Regions from separate parts of the Homo sapiens genome. Here all the other regions are linked to region 1. The links come from fine-mapping of genetic effects on gene expression. A gene starts in region 1. Each other region holds a variant in brackets. All regions are shown on one strand. Distances are from middle to middle. Region 1 holds the start of FBXW7 (F-box and WD repeat domain containing 7). Region 2 overlaps FBXW7 (F-box and WD repeat domain containing 7). Region 3 overlaps FBXW7 (F-box and WD repeat domain containing 7).

Evidence for each region. PIP is the estimated chance that this variant, and not a neighbour inherited with it, causes the effect. A credible set is the group of variants that fine-mapping cannot tell apart.
Region 2: its variant is the best candidate, but not a certain one, in a credible set for the expression of FBXW7 in whole blood (INTERVAL, PIP 0.67).
Region 3: its variant is the best candidate, but not a certain one, in a credible set for the expression of FBXW7 in whole blood (INTERVAL, PIP 0.72).

Annotation. Positions count from the first base shown.
Region 1 is chr4:152,533,982-152,537,981 of GRCh38, reverse strand. FBXW7 (F-box and WD repeat domain containing 7) reads left to right here and starts at 1,890. Exons shown (of 14, transcript NM_001349798.2): 1 at 1,890-2,855; 2 at 2,949-3,041. It overlaps MIR4453HG (MIR4453 host gene), which reads right to left and starts at 1,718. Exons shown (of 1, transcript NR_033797.2): 1 at 1-1,718. MIR4453 (microRNA 4453) reads right to left here and starts at 1,554; the gene lies at 1,466-1,554. RefSeq lists enhancers at 1,595-1,954, 1,660-2,195, 3,445-3,544 and a silencer at 2,065-2,854.
Region 2 is chr4:152,358,640-152,362,794 of GRCh38, reverse strand. The region is part of intron 4 of FBXW7 (F-box and WD repeat domain containing 7); the gene reads left to right. Among named protein-coding and RNA genes, the nearest start is that of FBXW7-AS1, 23 kb to the right of the region's middle. The variant A/G (reference allele first, on the strand shown) is at 1,974.
Region 3 is chr4:152,465,341-152,469,696 of GRCh38, reverse strand. The region is part of intron 2 of FBXW7 (F-box and WD repeat domain containing 7); the gene reads left to right. Among named protein-coding and RNA genes, the nearest start is that of MIR3140, 22 kb to the left of the region's middle. The variant C/T (reference allele first, on the strand shown) is at 1,981.

The sequences.
Region 1 (4,000 bases):
TCTTTTCCTTCAAAGCCTACAAAGGTTAAACTCTCTGAGGTGTTTAGCTTCACAAAATCCCCTAAATCTGTGTGTTTTACTCCTTTAATTTCCACCATTCCCCTGTTGTAAGATAGGAAGAGGGGGAAAAACAAAAAATATTTATTTTGTAGCCATGTGAGACCATCACTTGTTGGTCTGATTACCTGTGAGTCTTATTTGGAAGGCTGTAGCAGGGGATTGGTCACGTAAAGACAGAAAAATCCAGGGTAATTTAAGCAGGATATTTAACCTGGCTCTTGGAACTTCAGGTCAAGGGCAGTAGGGTCAGGTGCTAGTCTGTGAGTCTCTCCTTGGTTTTGCCACATCCTCCTTTGCCCCTCTCACCACCTTTCCCGCAGCATTTTAATGAACACGAGCCCTTGGATTTACCCAGTTAAAAGTTTCCTTAGTTTACTGTTTGCAGATGGTAGTGGCAGTAGTGGGAGAAACCCAGAGCTTCCCACATTTGTCTATAATACACTTGCTCCTACCTTACCCCCTCCTCCAGGTGGAAAGACTTGTAAAATCCATTACTACTGCTTCCCAAGGAGGTAGAGTGTACTAGGGTCCAGGGACAGAATTGTGGAATCTGCTTTCATCATTGCTGCTGCTTTAATCTTTTTCTCATACTATTCACTGAAGACAGATTTCTGAGGATTCTGGTCCTTTTATCTTAAATTTGTTTTCCTAGAGAACTACACTTTAAACTTCATGAGTTTCTACTTAACTTTCCTTTCCAGGATAACATCTGTAGGAAAAGCTGCATAATAGTAATAACACTTATTTTAGAAAGAAAATAACCTTTGAGTCAGACCTGAAACAGGCCAACATTTCTTGATGACAACGTACACTGATGAACCAAGACCAGAAGCTCTCGAAAGCTCCAAACCGTAAGAAAGAACCATTCGTAAAAGTGAGGGACTATTAAATTCTTCCCCTGACAGTCAAAAATCCTTCAGCAATCTCCCAGAGGATGGCTCCCTTCCAATCCTCCCTTCCCGCCGCCCTAACAATCTGCGCGAGGATGGGTCCCTTCCCTTGCTCGGCATTTCGTCTCCTTTTCCACTAAAGACTCAGGTTGTGACTCTGTACTCAAGCCGCACCCCTGTTTCCTTTCATGGCTAGGGGGAGGGGAGGAATGTATTACAACTCATTTTTACAATGCACTGCAGTTTACAAAGCGCTTGCACTTCCACCATATCCTCTGAGCTTCACGAGTGCCACGTGAGAGAGGCATTCATTCATTCATTCATTCATCAAACATTTGCTCGGCCCGACCACACGTTATCCAACGCTGGGTCTCACCCCACGCCACGGGAAGGGTGGGGCGCTCTCTCCCTGGAGCAGGTGCAGATCAGGCTGTAGGGTAACTCCTCGATCAGTCCGGCTTTTCGAGGGTCTGTTTGGGGCCAAATGCCTCACCTTCGGGTGGTGCGCGCAGCTGCCTGAAGACGCGGCCTGGGCCTCCTCCTTCCTCCCAAAGGAGCAGTCCCCACCTGCCCCGAAGGAAACCGCTACAGACCAAGCTCTCCAGGCCGCCCTCGGGTCAGGGGTAAGATCGGGCGGCAGCTTAGGCTCGACTCGGCTCCTCCCCTTCCTCTCTTCAGTTCTGACGCGGCCGTAGAGGCGGCAGCGGCGGTGGCGGCTGCGAGTCCCGCGGCCCGAGGCGCACCCACCCGCTCGCCGATCCCCACTTCCTCTTCCCTTGGAGCGTCATCAGAGCGCGCCAGAGGCGCCCAGGGCGGGGTGGCTGGAAGGGGGAAAAAGGCCAGCGGAGGAAGCCTCAGAGCGGAAAGAAGAGGGAGGGGGAAGAGAGCGGTTGCTAGGTGACTTGCGTCATCGGCAGGCGCCGCTCTCCTCCCGCCCCTCTCTCTGGAGTGAGGCGAGAGCCCCGCACAGAGCGAGGGAGACAGCGAGCTGAGCTCCGGGCGCTGCCGCTGCCGCTGCCGCCGCCGCCGCCGCTGAGACTGAGAGCGAAGGAGCATCCGAGAGATCCAGTCCCCCTGCACTGGCCGCCGCCGAGACCTTCGCTCTCACCTGGGCCAGCGGGAGCCGCGGCCGCACTCCTTTCCCCCCCTCACCTTCCCGGCCGGCAGCGGCGGCTGCACACGCCGGAGCCGGAGCCAGAGCCGGAGCCCGAGCCTGAGCCGGAGCCGGCGGCTTGGGGGGCAGGGAGGCGGCTACCACGGGCCGGGAGTGGGTAGCTGCTCCGCGGTGAGAGAACGCTGAGGAGGCGCCAGAGCTTCTGCCTCGTCCCGTGGGGCGTGGGGCGAGACCCCCAAGGTGTAGGGAGGGGGGTCCCAGCCGCAGCGACACATGCGGGAGCCGGGAGCGGGGGCGGCGCCGAGCGGAGCCGGCCGGGTCCCTCGCCTTGCCGCCGACTCGGCCACCCGCCCGGGGCCGTAGCATCTTGCCCCGGAGTGTATGAACCGGGGCCCCAACCAAGCTCGGCAACCACCCCCCGGCCGGGGGGGCGGGGACCCCGATGTGAAGCGGCGGCTGGGGCGGCGGAGAGAACAGGACCGACGCCGCCGTCCTTTCCTCACCTTCCCCCTCCCCTCAGCCCCCTCCGGGGGTCTTCTCCCTTGGCCAGTCGCCGGCCCCCCGGCTCCTTGGCTGGACTCCGGGAGGAGTTCCTAGAGCCCCCCTCCCCCGCCCCAGTCCCGAGGGCGGCGGGGCCGGGGGGGACCCGGGGGGCCGGCCGCAGCCTCCACCCAGAGGAAACTTTACAAAAACAAAATCCGGAGTCTCCCAAACCTGACTGTCCCGGGAGAAGTGGCCCTGGACGGGCAGAAGCCGCAGCCTGAAAAGACCCAGGAAGAGGAAAAGAGGAGGTAAGCGGGGCCGCCGCCTCCCCTCCCCTGGCAGCGCGGAAGAGACCCGGGTTGCCGCCTGGTTTAGCGACACGAGCACCGCTTCTTCCTCAGTACCGCGCCGGAGCCTTCCGCAGCTGCCGCTTCAGTCCGAAGGAGGAAGGGAACCAACCCACTTTCTCGGCGCCGCGGCTCTTTTCTAAAAGTGTGAGTGGCCCCGGGAGAGGGAATTGAGGGGGAGAAAGTGGGAGGATGCCGGCGCTTCCTCCTGGAGTTTTGCTGATGTTCTCCAGTAGTGTTGGGAGTCTATCAATGAGGGAGTCTAGCTTTATTCACGGAGGGGGGAAGGTGTTAGGGAGGCCTGTATTTTGTAACTTTTTAGCTCTTTGTACGAGTAATGCAAGTATGCAGGTTTCTGTCGGAGGAGTCTTTTCTCCAAAGTGAATACTCGCACCTTTCTGGCCAGCAGTTGGCAAAGGGAAATTGAGGAAGCCAGAGCATATGTGCGCACAGAGGCCATCTGTATCTGTAACCTTTTCCTGGTACTGTGGGTGTGTGCGGTGTACTTTTTGTTTCGGGGGTACTCTCATATAGGTTCCCGAATGAGAACTACTTAACCTGTGGACCCCTGAAAGTAAAATTCCTTTTTTAAAAAACAACAACAAACCTGTTTTGAGAGAGGTTCATTTCAGTACCTATTGGTACAGGAGTTAACCTTCTCAGTTACTGGGTCCAATTTCATGTGTGTCAGGAGGACACTGTAACAGATGTCAGTTACTCAGGAACTTGAGTTGTTAGGAATCACAACTTACTTGGGGAAGAGCATTTATCACATTAATCATTTTATAAAAGTTGTGATTTTTTCCCTTTCACCCCCCCCTTTTTTTTTTTAGAGTAACAAATTACAGCACTTTTTTATTTGGTTTGAGGCTTTGCTTTTTTGAATTATCTTTATTTCTGTATCAATTTAGGATACATCTTTGATATTTAAGTCAGGAATGATTTTTTCCTTCCATTATTTTAAAGCTGAAGTTTATAAAACCTTTGACTTGTATTTTAGGTATCTTGTCAGAGTACCAAATTAAAGGTTTATGAAAGTAATTAATATTTCATATACAGACCTTAAGGGTTAAACATAGAGCAGAATTTTATGTAAGAAGACATAG
Region 2 (4,155 bases), 180 kb after region 1:
AGTACAGTGGTGCAATCTTGGCTCACTGCATCCTCTGCCTCCCGGGTTTGAGCAATTCTCTGCCTCAGCCTCCCAAGTAGCTGAGATTACAGGTGCCCACCACCATGCCTGGCTAATTTGTTTTATATTTTCAGTGGAGACGGGGTTTCACCATCTTGGCCAGGTGATGGCCTGGTGAACTTGATCTTGAACTCGTGACCTTATGATCCACCTGCCTCAGCCTCCCAAAGTGCTGGGATTACAGGCATGAGCCACTGCGCCCGGCCCTAAGTTCTTTTTTAATATGCTAAGTTGTCTGTTGTTGGAATGACTTTAAAGGAAAGGTTTAAAATGAAGAAAGGAATATGTGTGTGTCTTCTTTATCATCTCATGAACTAAAAAATACTGGAATTTTAAGATTACACTAAAGTTCAGCATCCTTTTGCTAGCTTTGAATTGATATTCTTTTGGGTAGATTTAGACTATTCCTCATAGGATTTTTTCATATTGTATAATTATGAACATACATTGACTCATAAACTTAGATTTTAAGAAATCTAAGATTTAGCTTTAAAAAGTGGTCTCAATTTACCATGTAGCAGTTCGTAACAGACCACAGCTATATGCACTTGTTCATATCAGGAGCAGTTCTTAATTTTAGTTATAATTCATATTTGTTTAATAGTCATCATTCCATCATTACATACCATGCCTTCATGCAACTGGTGGGAAACTTATGATATTCATTCCACATAAAGGAGTTTTTAGAATCATGTATTAAATGTGATAAGCTTTCTTTTTTCTTTTCTTTTTTCTGTTCTGTTCTGTTCTTTTTTTTTTTTTTTTTTTTGAGATGGAGTCTAGCTCTGTCTCCCAGGCTGGAGTGCAGTGTTGCAATCTCGGCTCACTGCACCCTCCACCTCCCGAGTTCAAGCAATTCTCCTGCCTTAGCCTCCCAAGTAGCTGGGATTACAGGTGCACACCACCATACCCGGCTAATTTTTGTATTTTTAGTAGAGTCGGGGTTTCACTCTTGGCCAGGCTGGTCTCCACCTCAAGTGATCCACCAGCCTTGGTCTCCCAAAATGCTGGGATTACAGGTGTGAGCCACCATGCCTGTCAAAAGTTAGTTTTCAAACATTTGGAGGTCTCAAGTGTTTATAGGTAAATATTTTTTAAATCATGTGCTAAAATAAATTTTAAGAAAGTGAATCTGTAAATAAAATATTTCTATGAGAATGTTGAGAAGATAGCAAAGTGCTTCTAACTATCAGTCTTACAGTTCACTGCACATAAAAGACAAATATACATTCAGATACCTTTTCAAGTTAAGTTGTCTTGAAAATATTTATTGACCTTCAGAGTCTTTTGGAATCTCCTAAACAGGTAGGGAATCATGTAAGTATTTGCTAGTCATAGAATTCTTGATTTTTTTTTAAAGCAAATAATGTAATTTGTTAAAGTATATATATGTATATAGGAAGTACTTTAAAATTTAAATTAATGTTTTAAAAATGAATAGAATCCTCTTTTTAAAATGTAGTGGGGGCCTGATTACTATGTTCTTCCCTACTCACTTGACAGCTATGTCAAACACTTGAATACTTAAAGAACAAGCAAGCTACATAAAAACAAAGAATTGATTAAAGATCACCATGAGGCACACTTTCTAGAGCAAGAATCCAGTGTTATTTTTGTTTCTCACTGGCCTAGCACCAAAACAAAATAGGTACTCAATAAATATTTTTGAATTAGTGAAATCAGTTTGAATTCACAGACTTTGATTCATAACTAGAGTTTTAAAAGATTGGTTCAAGTTATGCCTTGTCATTTTGAATTCTTCTGGAAAATTAGTAAGATGCTTGATGAGAAGAGATGCCTATATTTTAAAAAGTGCAGTAAGTATGAATCTGGACTTTCTGTATCTGCCAGCCAAATGTTGGCTGGCATTTTACTATATTTTATATATATATATATATTTAATATATTTTAAT[A/G]TATTTTTCTAGGCTTTTCTCTATGCATACACAGTGCGCACACACATAAAATATATGCTTGTTTTTTCAAAAGGACCGTACCTTATATTGTGTTATCGAATCTCACATACCTTCTAGTTTTACAGTCACCCTTCCATAGTCACCTAGCTCTGTACCTGATGAACGGTTTCTGAGACTTCAAAATGCTCTATAGTGAAGTCTGTTCTTTAGAAAAGAGGCTTTGAGTCTGGGGGCCAGACAGTAGAGGTGTGGGGAGAAAGGGCTGGGGTAGAACAAGATGAAAATTTTCTTAGTGAGCTATACCTTTTTGAATAGGACAGGTTCTTTCAGTCACATGTTGGCAAGAATCGGTGAATTGTGTACTCACCTGTTGCCCCGAGTAACTTTTCGGATTGTTTTTTCATTAACTTTTTCTGGGAATATACAATTTCAATGAATGTTTTATACACCATTTCCCTGCGCTGTGTATTCAGGAGTACAACTTGCTTGTATGTATGATTTCTAGTGTGAATGCCTGTTCAAACAGAAAGTCCCCTTGTTTGTCAGTGTTTGTAACTAAAATAAAAAGTCAACAGTCTTCACACCCACACAGTAAAGTTCTCCTAGTACAGAAAGACACATAATGCCCTAAGATGGAATGATGAGTCATGACAGGAGGTATTTTGAAGAAATTTAACAATATGTTAAATAACATTTTAACTCTAGTATTAAATGTTTCAGTTAGGAGAAATAATTGTTATCACATGGGTTATCCCCTAATGAACCTTGTAAGACCAGTGATTAGAAGTCTAATAGATGCTGTTAATCCTGCAAGTTAATAATAGTCGTATTTCCATTTACATCTCAGGTCCACAGGTGGTAATTTCCTTCTTCCCTCTCAACACTTATCAAACTTCTGTTTTTTAAACACAGAAGCAAGACCATGTCATTTATGAACTCCCAGACTATTAAAATAACTTCTCCATTTTCTGACTCACTCCACCCAATTTGGCAATTGATATATAGTCCAGTATTGCTTTCTATTTGTTTCTTGTCTTTGTGGGTTTTTTTTGTTTTTTGAGACTGAGTTTTGCTCTTTTTGCCCAGGCTGGAGTGCAACGGCACGATCTCAGCTCACTGCAACCTCTGCCTTCCGGGTTCAAGTGATTCTCTTGCCTCACCTGTCTTCGTGGTTTTTGTTGTTGTTTTGTTTTGTTTTGTTTTGTTTTTGGTAGTTTTTGTTTGTTTGTTTTTGAGACAGAGTCTTGCCTTATCACCCAGGCTGGAGTAGAGTGCTGTGATCATAGCTAACTGCAACCTCAAACGATCCTCCTGCCCCAGCCTCTCAAGTAGCTAGGGCTACAGGTGCACACTACCATGCCCAGGTAATTTTTTTTCATTATTTATAGAAATGGGGTCTTGCTATATTGCCCAGGCTGGTCTTGAACTCGTAGCCTCAAATGATCCTCCTGCCTCGGCCTCCCAAAGCTCTGGGATTATGGGTGTGAGCCACCACACCCAGCCTCATTTCTTATCTTGTCACCTGGATTTTAAGTATCTTGTGGGAGGAAGGTAATTGCAATGTTTTTGTTTGCCCTTGGTAGCATTTCGCAGATATTGGGACATAGGAGGTGACTTATTTCTCAATTGATTGTTTTTTTAACCTAAAATTTTCTCAGTTTCTGTCACCTTTCCCCCATCACCAGGCCTTTGCCTCAGATTTCCCAGATGTAGTAGAAGCATAGTTAATATGGACCTAAAATAACGATTCAATAAACTGAATAATCAAGATTTACTTGTAATTTACATACATACTTTTTGCAAAATATAACACTTTTTTCTTCTTTAACAATGTCTCGTGTTTTAGCTTAACTTGAGCTACCACATATCTAATGGAAATCAGTAAGAATTATTGATCTTGGGACCAGAGACCAAGGTTCTAAATATAGCTAGCTATTTAAGCATGGGCAAGACACTTAATTCTGTACCTACTTTTCCCACCTGTTAAATACAGCTACCATTTCTAGGGTATCTGTTATGTGCTAGGCATTTTCTGTTTCCTCACAGTGACTCTGTAGTTTAGGTGGTAAGGTAGGTGTATATCATTACTGTTTTATAAAAAGAGAAAACAAACTCGTAAAGGTCAAGTAACCACCTAACATTACACTCTGGTAATGGCAAAACTTGCGCTTAAATCCAGGTT
Region 3 (4,356 bases), 68 kb after region 1:
GGTTTTAGTGAGCAGGAATGCTAATACTTTATGAATAAAACAGGATTTCCCCTACTTGAGATTTTGTAGTATTTCTTTTTTGTGAAAACACTAATACAGATTTGTTCTTTAGCCATCCATTGCTTGACTCCTCCTTGTATTTAGGTCCTGTTTGCTGCAACATGCCAACATGAACCAAATACTGTGGTCAGGGTCTATGCATTTCCTGTTTAGATTATTCTTTGTTCCAAGCTTAAAATATGAAAAATTTTGTAGGTGTCTGTAGTTAAGAATTTCATAAACTTATGATTTCATAGATAAAGCTTTTACTTTTTTATTTTTGAGTAAAGGTAGGTGAGTCAATCTCAGAATGTATTTTACTTCAACTACATAGTATTTTATACCTGTGTACTATGGTGATTATATAGATATAAAATGATTTGGTTAATCATAATAGATTTTAAAGTTATTAAATATGCTTCAGAATGGGAAAGAAGTGCTGAGACATTGCATAATGAGGTGTCATAGTATAGGCTTTTGGTTGTTTTTAATATAGTCAATAGCAGATTATTAAGGAGGAAATATTTAGTGATAAGCATTGGCTTCTTTTATTATACTTTTTAATGTGTTTGAAACAGCAAATATTTGACCAAATTATTTTTCTTAAATTTTATAGTAACTACAGTAGGTGCCTAAATGTTCAACAGTTATACTGTTCTGTTTACTGTAAATTTGTAATAAATATAAATACTTTTAGGAGCAAATGATGCCACAGAGATCTCTTAAACAGATTTTTACTACTTTAGAAGGTGGTAACTGATTTCTGGAGTTGTATTAAGTACAAAAGAGTAACTTATTGTCATTTTTTTCCCTATTGATGCGTATATTTGAGTTAGAGGGAAGCAGTCGTCTTTGTGTTATATGCTTATCATGTATATTTCATCTTAGCAAATTTATTAATTTTAGTGACAGTTTTATTGAGATGAAATTTATATACCAGGAGATTTCATCTCTAAGTGTACAATTCAGTGATATTTTAATATATTCACCAAGTTATGCAACTACCAGTACTTTGTAATCTTAGGTTACTTTCATCATCCTTCTTCTGGACGCCCTCTATCACCCAGCCCTAGGCAACCACTAATACACTTTCTGTTTGTATAGGTTTGCCTATTCTGGGCATTTTATAAAAACAGAATCATAAAATATTTGTCCTTTTGTGTCTGGCTTCTTTAATTTAGCATGATATTTAAAGCTTCACTCATGTTGTAGCATGTATCAGTGTTTCATTCATTTTTGTGGCTGAATATTTCTTTGTATATCATTTGTGTATTCATCAGTTAATGAGTTGTATCCACTTCTTTTTTTGGCTATTAGGAGCGCTTTTCTGTGAACATTCTTATATAAGTTTTGTGTAGATACGTTTTTGAGTATATATGGATGGGGTGGGATTGCTCGATAATATAGTACCTGTGTGTAACTCTTTGAGGAACTCTCAAAATGGCTGTACCATTTTACAATACCACCAACAATGTATGAGGATTGTAATTTCTCCACGACCTCATAAACACTTATTGTCAGTCTTTTGTATTTCAGCCATTCTAGTAGGTATGAAGTTGTATCCCATTGTGATTTTGATTTGGATAATGACTAATGATAAGCATCATTTCACATGCTTATTGACCATATATCTTCTTTGGAGAAATATCTGTTCAACTCCTTTGCCCATTAAAAAAAAAAAGATTATCTTTTTAATGTTGAATATTGTAAACATTCTTTATATATTCTGGAAACTAGTCCCTTATCACATACATGATTTGCAAATATTTTCTCCTATGGATTATCTCTTTACTTTTATGATGGTGTCCTTTGAAGCAGAAAAGTTTTAATTTTGAAGTTCAGCTGATCTGTTTTTTGTTGCTTGTTCTTTTGGTGTTATATTGCAGATTTGTTTTTAAATAAATACTCACTGATAGCCTGGGTCTATGACAAAGTTTTAAT[C/T]GTCATAGGACTACGAAAAAGCATTGGCATTTCTTGTGTTTGACAGTCAAAGCCCAAAGGAGGCAATTATCCTTGTATTTGTGCTTCAGTTCCTCAGCTAATTGTTTTAAGCAAAACCTTACGTTTTGATCCCATGTGTTACTGTGAAAATATTAGCTGTGTGTGATATGTTTATTGATATTAGTCTTGTGAATTTATGTTTAGTTTTTTTTGGATTGAAGAAGGGAGGGGCCATCCTTAATAGATGTTATTAGTCCGTTCTCACGCTGCTGATAAAGACATATACCCAAGACTGGGTAGTTTATAAAGGAAAGAGGCTTAATTGACTCACAGTTCCTCAGGGCTGGAGAGGCCTCAGGAATCTTACAGTTGTGGCAGAAGAGGAACCAAACACATGGTGACAGCAAGGAGAAGTGCAGAGTGAATCGGGGGAAAAGCCCCTTATAAAACCATCAGATCTTGTGGGAACTCAGTCACTATTATGAGAACAGCATGGAGGTCATCATCCCCATGATTCGATTACCTTGCACTGGGTCCCACCACAACACTTGGGGATTGTGAGAACTGCAATTCAAGATGAGATTTGGGTTTGGACACAGCCAAACCATATCAATAGTTTATTATGACAATTACTGCATATTTTATTTCATAGTTTAAGAAACCATTGCTTTTTAGACTAAGGATTATCAGGTTCTTATCTTTCTTGTGAAGAAGGAATAGATTTTGATAATCTCACTGATTTTAATCTTGTACAGATTATTATTATTATTATTTTGAGACGGAATCTCGCTCTTTCGCTCAGGCCAGAGTGCAGTGGCGCGATCTCAGCTCACTGCCAGCTCTGCCTCCTGGGTTCACGCCATTCTCCTGCCTCAGCCTCCCGAGTAGCTGGGACTACAGGTGCCCGCCACCGCGCCTGGCTAATTTTTTGTATTTTTAGTAGAGATGGCATGTCACCATGTTAGCCAGGATGGTCTCGATCTCCTGACCTCGTGATCCGCCCACCTCGGCCTCCCAAAGTGCTGGGATTACAGGTGTGAGCCACCACGCCCAACCCAGATTATTTTTAAGCAATGATATTTTGGTGTTTTTGTAAACTTATGTATGGAATATGTAAGTTTTTCCTCTATTAAGTAAATGTCTTTAATTTTTTTTTTTTTTTGAAATGGAGTCTCGCTCTGTTGCCCAGGCTGGAGGGCAGTGGCACAATCTTGGCTCACTGCAACCTCTGCCTCCCGGGTTCAAGTGATTCTCATGCCTGAGCCTCCCGAGTAGCTGCGATTACAGGCATGTGCCACCAAACCTGACTAATTTTTGTATTTTTAGAAGAGACGGGGTTTCACCATGTTGGTCAGGCTGGTCTCAAACTCCTGACCTCAGGTGACCACCTGCCTCTGCCTCCCAAAGTGCTGGGATTACAGGCTTGAGCCACTGCGCCCAGCCAGTGTCTTTAATTTTTAAGGTACCAATTTAGTTCCTTATTTTTTATCGTTATGTGACGTTATGTGATCAGTTGAAGGTGTATTTCATGTATTTTGACCTATAATGTTGTCTAGTTTAGTTTCTGGAGAAATGGTGTGTAACAGTGGAATGTCACTTGTCTTCAAAGCATTAGCTTTCTGTGTAAGGTTGAGGTTGTAATATAAATGCGCTAGATGTGTTTTTATTAGGGGAATTGACTATTCTTACCTTTCATGTTATTTGACAGTATTCTTTGTCAACTTCAAATAACGGCCTATTTTGATGAGATTTTATAGTGCTAGGATCACTGATATTCTTGTTAGTTGATTTAAAATCATGGTGTTCATTGGCTAACAGTCACTTGAGTGGCTATTAGATGGGTAATATTGTTCTCTTTTTTTTTTTTTTTTTTGAGAAAGAGTCTCACTCTGTCGCCCAGGCTGGAGTGCAGTGGCATGATCTTGGCTCACTGCAACCTCTGCCTCCTGGGTTCAAGCGATTCTCCTGTGTCAGCCTCCTGAGTAGCTGGGATTATAGGCGCATGCCATCATGCCCGGCTAATTTTTGTATTTTTAGTAGAGATGGGGTCTCACCATGTTGGACAGGCTGGTCTCTAACTCCTGACCTCAGGTATCCACCCACTTTGGCCTCCCAAAGTGCTGGGATTGCAGGCATGAGCCACCGCGCCTGGCCAGATGGGTAATATTGTTCTATACATTGATATTCTTATGGTTTATGTTATAGTATTCATGGAAATTTAGCAATGGAAAAGGAAATGAAAAACTTATTAATGATGTTGTTAAATTTTCAATTGTGATGACAGTAAGGAAAAGACATAATTGAGAGCTACCTCCAATTGTTTATATCAAATGTGGTAATTAAGAGGATTTTGGTGACCTATTTATGGCTGAATTA